2 separate regions of the Homo sapiens genome follow, and region 1 is linked to region 2. The links come from fine-mapping of genetic effects on gene expression. Tissue or cell type: whole blood. Region 2 holds a variant in brackets; the other region holds the start of a gene. All regions are shown on one strand. Distances are between the middles of the regions.

The links. PIP is the estimated chance that this variant, and not a neighbour inherited with it, causes the effect.
Region 1: it holds the start of TMUB2, and the variant in region 2 is the best candidate, but not a certain one, in a credible set for the expression of TMUB2 in whole blood (TOPMed, PIP 0.56).

The regions. Positions count from the first base shown.
Region 1 is chr17:44,185,584-44,188,488 of GRCh38, reverse strand. TMUB2 (transmembrane and ubiquitin like domain containing 2) reads right to left here and starts at 1,517. Exons shown (of 4, transcript NM_001076674.3): 1 at 1,380-1,517; 2 at 746-813. The coding sequence starts at 780. ASB16-AS1 (ASB16 antisense RNA 1) reads left to right here and starts at 1,772. Exons shown (of 3, transcript NR_049730.1): 1 at 1,772-1,924. RefSeq lists an enhancer at 1,659-2,193.
Region 2 is chr17:44,162,247-44,165,151 of GRCh38, reverse strand. It overlaps HROB (homologous recombination factor with OB-fold), which reads right to left. Exons shown (of 10, transcript NM_001171251.3): 10 at 2,676-2,905. Among named protein-coding and RNA genes, the nearest start is that of ASB16, 7.0 kb to the left of the region's middle. The variant C/T (reference allele first, on the strand shown) is at 1,178.

The DNA of each region.
Region 1 (2,905 bases), 23 kb before region 2:
CTGCCAGATGTCAAGAGCCAAAGAAAACTGACCTACCATCAAAAGCAGAGTCAGACAAATCTAAAACGATAACTCTGTAGGGACCGCGGGCAGATACTATGCAGCAGACATTATGTGCCGCCTCTGAAACTTCTGGCAAGCCCTGGGGAGCAACTTGGGACAGACACCAGAAGCACCACCTTCCTGGGTCACCATGGGCCCACTCCTGCAATGACCACTCCCCAAGTGGAGTGATTTGAAAAAGATTCCATAACAGCTCTCACAATCCATATCTCAGTCTCTCTTCTTTCACTGTGAAGGTTCTGCTGCTGCAGTTTCTTAGAAAGGCAGGAAGGGTCCCTGCTTGCTCCTTGGAGTACCTACTATTTCCCTTGGAGAATCTGCTGCTTTCACAGCTGTCCCTGGGCAAATCCAGTCTGGTGATTACCATTATCAGACTATTCTCACAGCACCTATAAAACTTCATTATACTTATGTACCTGTCCATCTTTCTATTAGACTCCTGGTAGACAAGGATCGTATGTATTTCTCTTGGTACTGAAGTGTCCAATATAATGCCCCAGTAGTTGCTCAAAGAATTATCTGTGGAACACATCAACATCCTTATTTAATATACCGGCCCTGGAGTTAGAAAAACAACTAATTATAACCCCAGTCTTGCGTCTTACTAGCTATAACACCTCAGACAACTTTCTCAGAGCCTCAGCTTTCTCATCAGTAAAATGGGGTTAAAAACAGTACCTACCTCATGAGGTTGTTTTGAAGATGACGTGAAATCATCGAAGCAAAATACTTGGCACAGTGCCTGGCACACTGCAAATTGCAATTGCTTAATAACGGTAGTAATTATTTATCACAACCACAACTAACCCCTGATGGTAAGAAGGTTAATGTTATTAACCATGATTTACAGGAAAAGAAACTGCGGCAAAGAAAGACGAAAACGATTGGCACAGACACAGGGAACTCTCGTGGGGAGGGGCCCGGCAGGACCCCAGGTGTCCGGCCTCAGGGGTCTTTGCTCTGTCCCTCAGCCTGTGATCTACCCTGTCCGTACCGTGACCGCACGGTGAGGAGGGGTCCCGCACCCTTTTTCTGAGGCGAAGGTTCCGCTTTTGGATGGTCCTATTCCCTCGGCGTTGGACTGGGGTCCATGGGCCCACCCGAACCGAAGGGCTGCCTGGCCCCAGCCTCCGTGATAAGACCAGTTGTCCCGGCCAGTGAGGAGTAGGGTCGGCTAAGGGGGTCACAAACCGTCCACACCCCTCAAACTTCGGGGCGGGGCTGGGGAACTGGGGGCGGGGCTTCAGGACGCGAGGAGTCATGGGAAATTAAAGGGGGATTGGACCGGCACTGTGCCTGGATGGGGAAGTCCTCACCTGAAAAGACCAGACTAAATGTTTTGACCTCGCCAGGACGGCCCCTGGACTCGTCTTTCCGTAGGGGTCGGGAAAAGGGCTGGCAATCTGCGATTCTGTTCAGGGTCCGGTCTCTTCCGGCTTCTCCCGGAAGCTGTTATACCAGGGACAGGAAGTCCCGCCTCCGCGCCTTGCACTGATGACGCGAAGCTGCGTAAGACGGGCTGACGTAAAAGGTATTCTTTAAATAAAAGGGACAGGTTTCTCAGCGGAAGGAGGGGTGGAGTCATTGTTGGCGGGATTGCGGCCCTCCCAGAGCGGGGCCACGCCTGGTGGGCGGGGCCTTAGGCAATCCAGGGTGAGAGGCGGGGCCAGGGGGGAGGAGTTAGCGCGGAGGTACTTGGGAAAGGGGCGTGGCTTCGCGACTGCGGAAGGTTGCCCGGGCTGGCGCCGCTGGGCAGAGCCGGTGCGACGTTTCCCTTTCCAGCTTTGTTCTTCCGGCCCTGCTGTCTGCCTCCCCGGCTGATTGGATTCGTTACTGCTTTGCAACGCGCACCTAACTCCAGGTTAGCGGGGATTAGTAAGAACTCAGCTCTGGGCCAGTCGGGAAGACAGATAAGGAGACCAGTTAGTCAGCATCCAGTGCTTGAAGAGTGCGGCCCCAGGTAGTGTGGGACCCGGAGAAAGAAGGCGGGAAAGCATTTCAAAGAAGGCACAGATTCGGCGCAGGCTTAGGACACAAAAAGGGGGAAAAGTCCAGCTTTCAAGAACTTATCCAGATTTTTGCAGTTAAAATTTTTTCTTTTTTGAGACGGGAGTTCCGCTCTTGTTGCCCAGGCTGGAGTGCAATGGCGCGATCTCGGCTCACTGCAACCTCCGCCCCCCCGGGTTCAAGCGATTCTTTTGCCTCAGCCTGCCGAGTAGCTGGGATTACAGGCATGCGCCACCACGCCCCGCTAATTTTGTATTTTAGTAGAGACAGGGTTTCTCCATGTTGGTCAGGCTGGTCTCGAACTCCCGACCTCAGGTGATCCGCCCCCGTCTCGGCCTCCCAAAGTGCTGGCATTACAGGCGTGAGCTACCGCGCTCGGCCGCAATTAAAATTTTTTCTAAAAACTTACTGTGGCCGGGGGGAGTGGCTTACTCTTGTAATCCCACCGCTTTGGGAGGCAGAGGTGGGAGGATCGCTTGAGCTCAGGAGTTCGAGGCTGCAGTGAGCTATGATCTGAGCCACTGCATTGCACCCGACAGGGAGGCCTTGTCTCCAAAAAAAAAAAAAAAAGCGCTGGAGTTTGGGGTTTTGGAGAACTACTGATTAAAGGATAAATAATCCAGACAGGGGCAAACATAAGCAAAAAGCTCGGTGGCTTCTACCAACTGAACACTGGCAGAAGTAGCACTTAGATCAAGAAATAGATAATTAGGACTGGCGCGGTGGCTCACGCCTGTAATCCCAACACGTTAGGAGGCTAAGGCAGGCGGATCACAAGGTCAGGAGTTCAAGACCAGCCTGGGTAACATGGTGAAATCCCGTCTCTACTAAAAAT
Region 2 (2,905 bases):
TGTAGTCCCAGCTACTCGGGAGGCTGAGGCAGGAGAATTGTGTGAACCCGGGAGGCAGAGCTTTCAGTGAGCCAAGATTGTGCCACTGCACTCCAGCCTGGGCAACAGAGCGAGACTCCATCTCAAAAAGAAAAAAAAAAAACAAAAACCTGTGTAGATATTCTGCCCTTAAGGAGGTAGAACATAATTCCCCAATTCTTAAATGTGGGCTGCACACAGTGACTTCCTTCCAAAGGGTCCAGTACAGAAAGAAGAAAAAAGAGTAACTTTACAATGGAGAAGTCTGGCAAAGTTTACCTCAGTCAGGTGATCAAAGTCAGCATGAACCCTTCATAAGATGTGGCAAGAATGGCACCTGACCTCTGGTCTTCCTCTCCAAAACCCAGAACCTCAGTCTAATCATGAGGAAACATCAGACAAATCCTGATAGAGGGGGATTCTACCATATGCCTACCCGGTACTCCCCAAAACTGTAAGGTCATCAAAAACAGGGAAGGTCTGAGAAACTATCACATCCAAGAGTCAGGATGATTGTGAAATGGGATTCTGAGGGGAAAAGGACATTAGGGGGAAACTGAGTAAATCTGAATAAAGTATGGAGTTTAGTTAATAATGATTCATTGTGACAAATGTACCATACTAAGGTGTTAATAATAGGGGAGACCACACCTGTAATCCCAGCCCTTTGGGAGGCTAAGGTAGGAGGATCACGTAAGTTTGAGACCAGCCTGGGCAACAATAGTGAGACCTTGTCTCTATGAAAAATTAAAAACTTAGGCCGGGCATAGTGGCTCACTCCTGTAATCCCAGCACTTTGGGAGGCCGAGGCGGGCGGATCGCGAGGTCAGGAGATCGAGACCATCCTGGCTAACATGGTGAAACCCCGTCTCTACTAAAAATACAAAAAGTTAGCTGGGCGTGATGGTGGGCGCCTGTAGTCCCAGCTACTCGGGAGGCTGAGGCAGGAGAATGGCGTGAACCCGGGAGGTGGAGCTGGCAGTGAGCCAAGATCGCACCACTGTACTTCAGCCTGGGTGACAGAGCGAGACTCCGTCTCAAAAAAAAAAAAAAAAAAAAAGAAAAGAAAAATGTAAAAATTAGCCAGCCATAGTGGTGCTGCCTGTAGTCCCAGCTACTTGGGAGGTTGAGGCAGGAGGATTGCTTGAGCCCTGAAGGT[C/T]GAGGCTGCAGTGAGCTATGACTGGGCCACTGCACTCCAGCCTGAGTGACAGAGAGAGACCCTGTCTCAAAAAAATTGCTGGGCATGGTGGCTCATGCCTGTAATCCCAGCACTTTGGGAGGCTGAGGTGGGGGGATCACCTGAAGTCAGGAGTTTCAGACCAGCCTGGCCAACATGGTAAAACCTCGTCTCTACTAAAAATAAAAAAATTAGGCTGGGCACGGTAGCTCATGTCTGTAATCCCGGCATTTTGGGAGGCCGAGGCGGGTGGATCACCTGAGGTCAGGAGTTCAAGCCCCGCCTGGCCAACATGGTGAAACCCTGTCTCTACAAAAAATACAAAAATTAGCTGGGCGTGGTGGCAGGCGCCTGTAATTCCAACTACTTGGGAGGCTGAGGCAGGAGAATCACTTGAACCCAGGAAGCAGAGGTTGCAGTGAGCCGAGATCACACCATTGCACTGCAGCCTGGGCGACAAGAGTGAAACTGCATGTCAAAAAAAAAAAAAAATGAGCTGGTGTGGTGGCGTGTGCCTGTAATCCCCAGCTTCCGGAGGCTGAGGCAGGAGAATCTTTTTTTTTTTGAGACGGAGTCTTGCTCTGTCGCCCAGCGCCCAGGCTGGAGTACAGTGGCGTGATCTCGGCTCACTGCAACCTCTGCCTCCTGGGTTCAAGCAATTATCCTGCCTCAGCCTCCTGAGTACCTGGGATTACAGGTGCGTGCCACTACGCCCCGCTAATTTTTGTATTTTTAATAGAGACGGGGTTTCACCATGTTGGCCAGGCTGGTCTCGAACTCCTGACCTCATGATCCGCCCACCTCGGCCTCCCAAAGTGCTGGGATTACAGGTGTGAGCCACCGCGCCCAGCCGGCAGGAAAATCTCTTGAACCTGGGAGGTGGAGGTTGCAGTGAGCGGAGATTGCGCCAGCCTGGGCGACAGCGAGACTCCAGCTCAAAAATAAATAAATAAAATAATATTAACTGGGAAACTGGGTGTGGGGTATGTGGGAACTCTCTGTACTATCTTTGCAATAAATAAATCTATAAATTTAGAAGTCTAAGGCCGGGCATGGTGGCTCACGCCTGTAATCCCAGCACTTTGGGAGGCCAAGCGGGGTGGATCATGAGGTCAGGAGATTGAGAATATCCTGGCTAACACGGTGAAACCCCGTCTCTACTAAAAAAAAAAAAAAAAAAAAAAAATCAGCCGGGCGTGGTGGCAGGAGCCTGTAGTCCCAGCTACTTGGGAGGCTGAGGCAGAAGAAAGGCATGAACCCGGGAGACGGAGCTTGCAGTGAGCCGAGATAGCGCCACTGTACTCCAGCCTGGGTGACAGAGCGAGACTCCGTCTCAAAAAAAAAATTTTAGAAGTCTAAAAGTATATAAAAAAGAAAAAAAAAGAGAAAAAGAGTTGCCTGAGCCCTTTTGTGGCCACACAGCACTGGCAGGGCAGTTAGGCAGGAGCAGCAGGGGGTGGAAAAGAAAGGGAGGCAGAAGAAGCAGGAGATGCTTTATTTCAGAACAAGGTACAATAGGCCACACCTCTGTCCTGCACCTGGGAACCTTGGGCATGGATGAGCAGAGCAACCACAGGTCTGAAGAGACAAAGCAGAGGAAGCCTGAGCGTGCTTCTCCCCTGTGTGGAGGGGCAGGCCGCCATTGTTGTGGTGTGGCTCCTTTCATCTCCTCAGCTGTCCAGGGACTAGGGTATGAAGGGACAAGAAAAC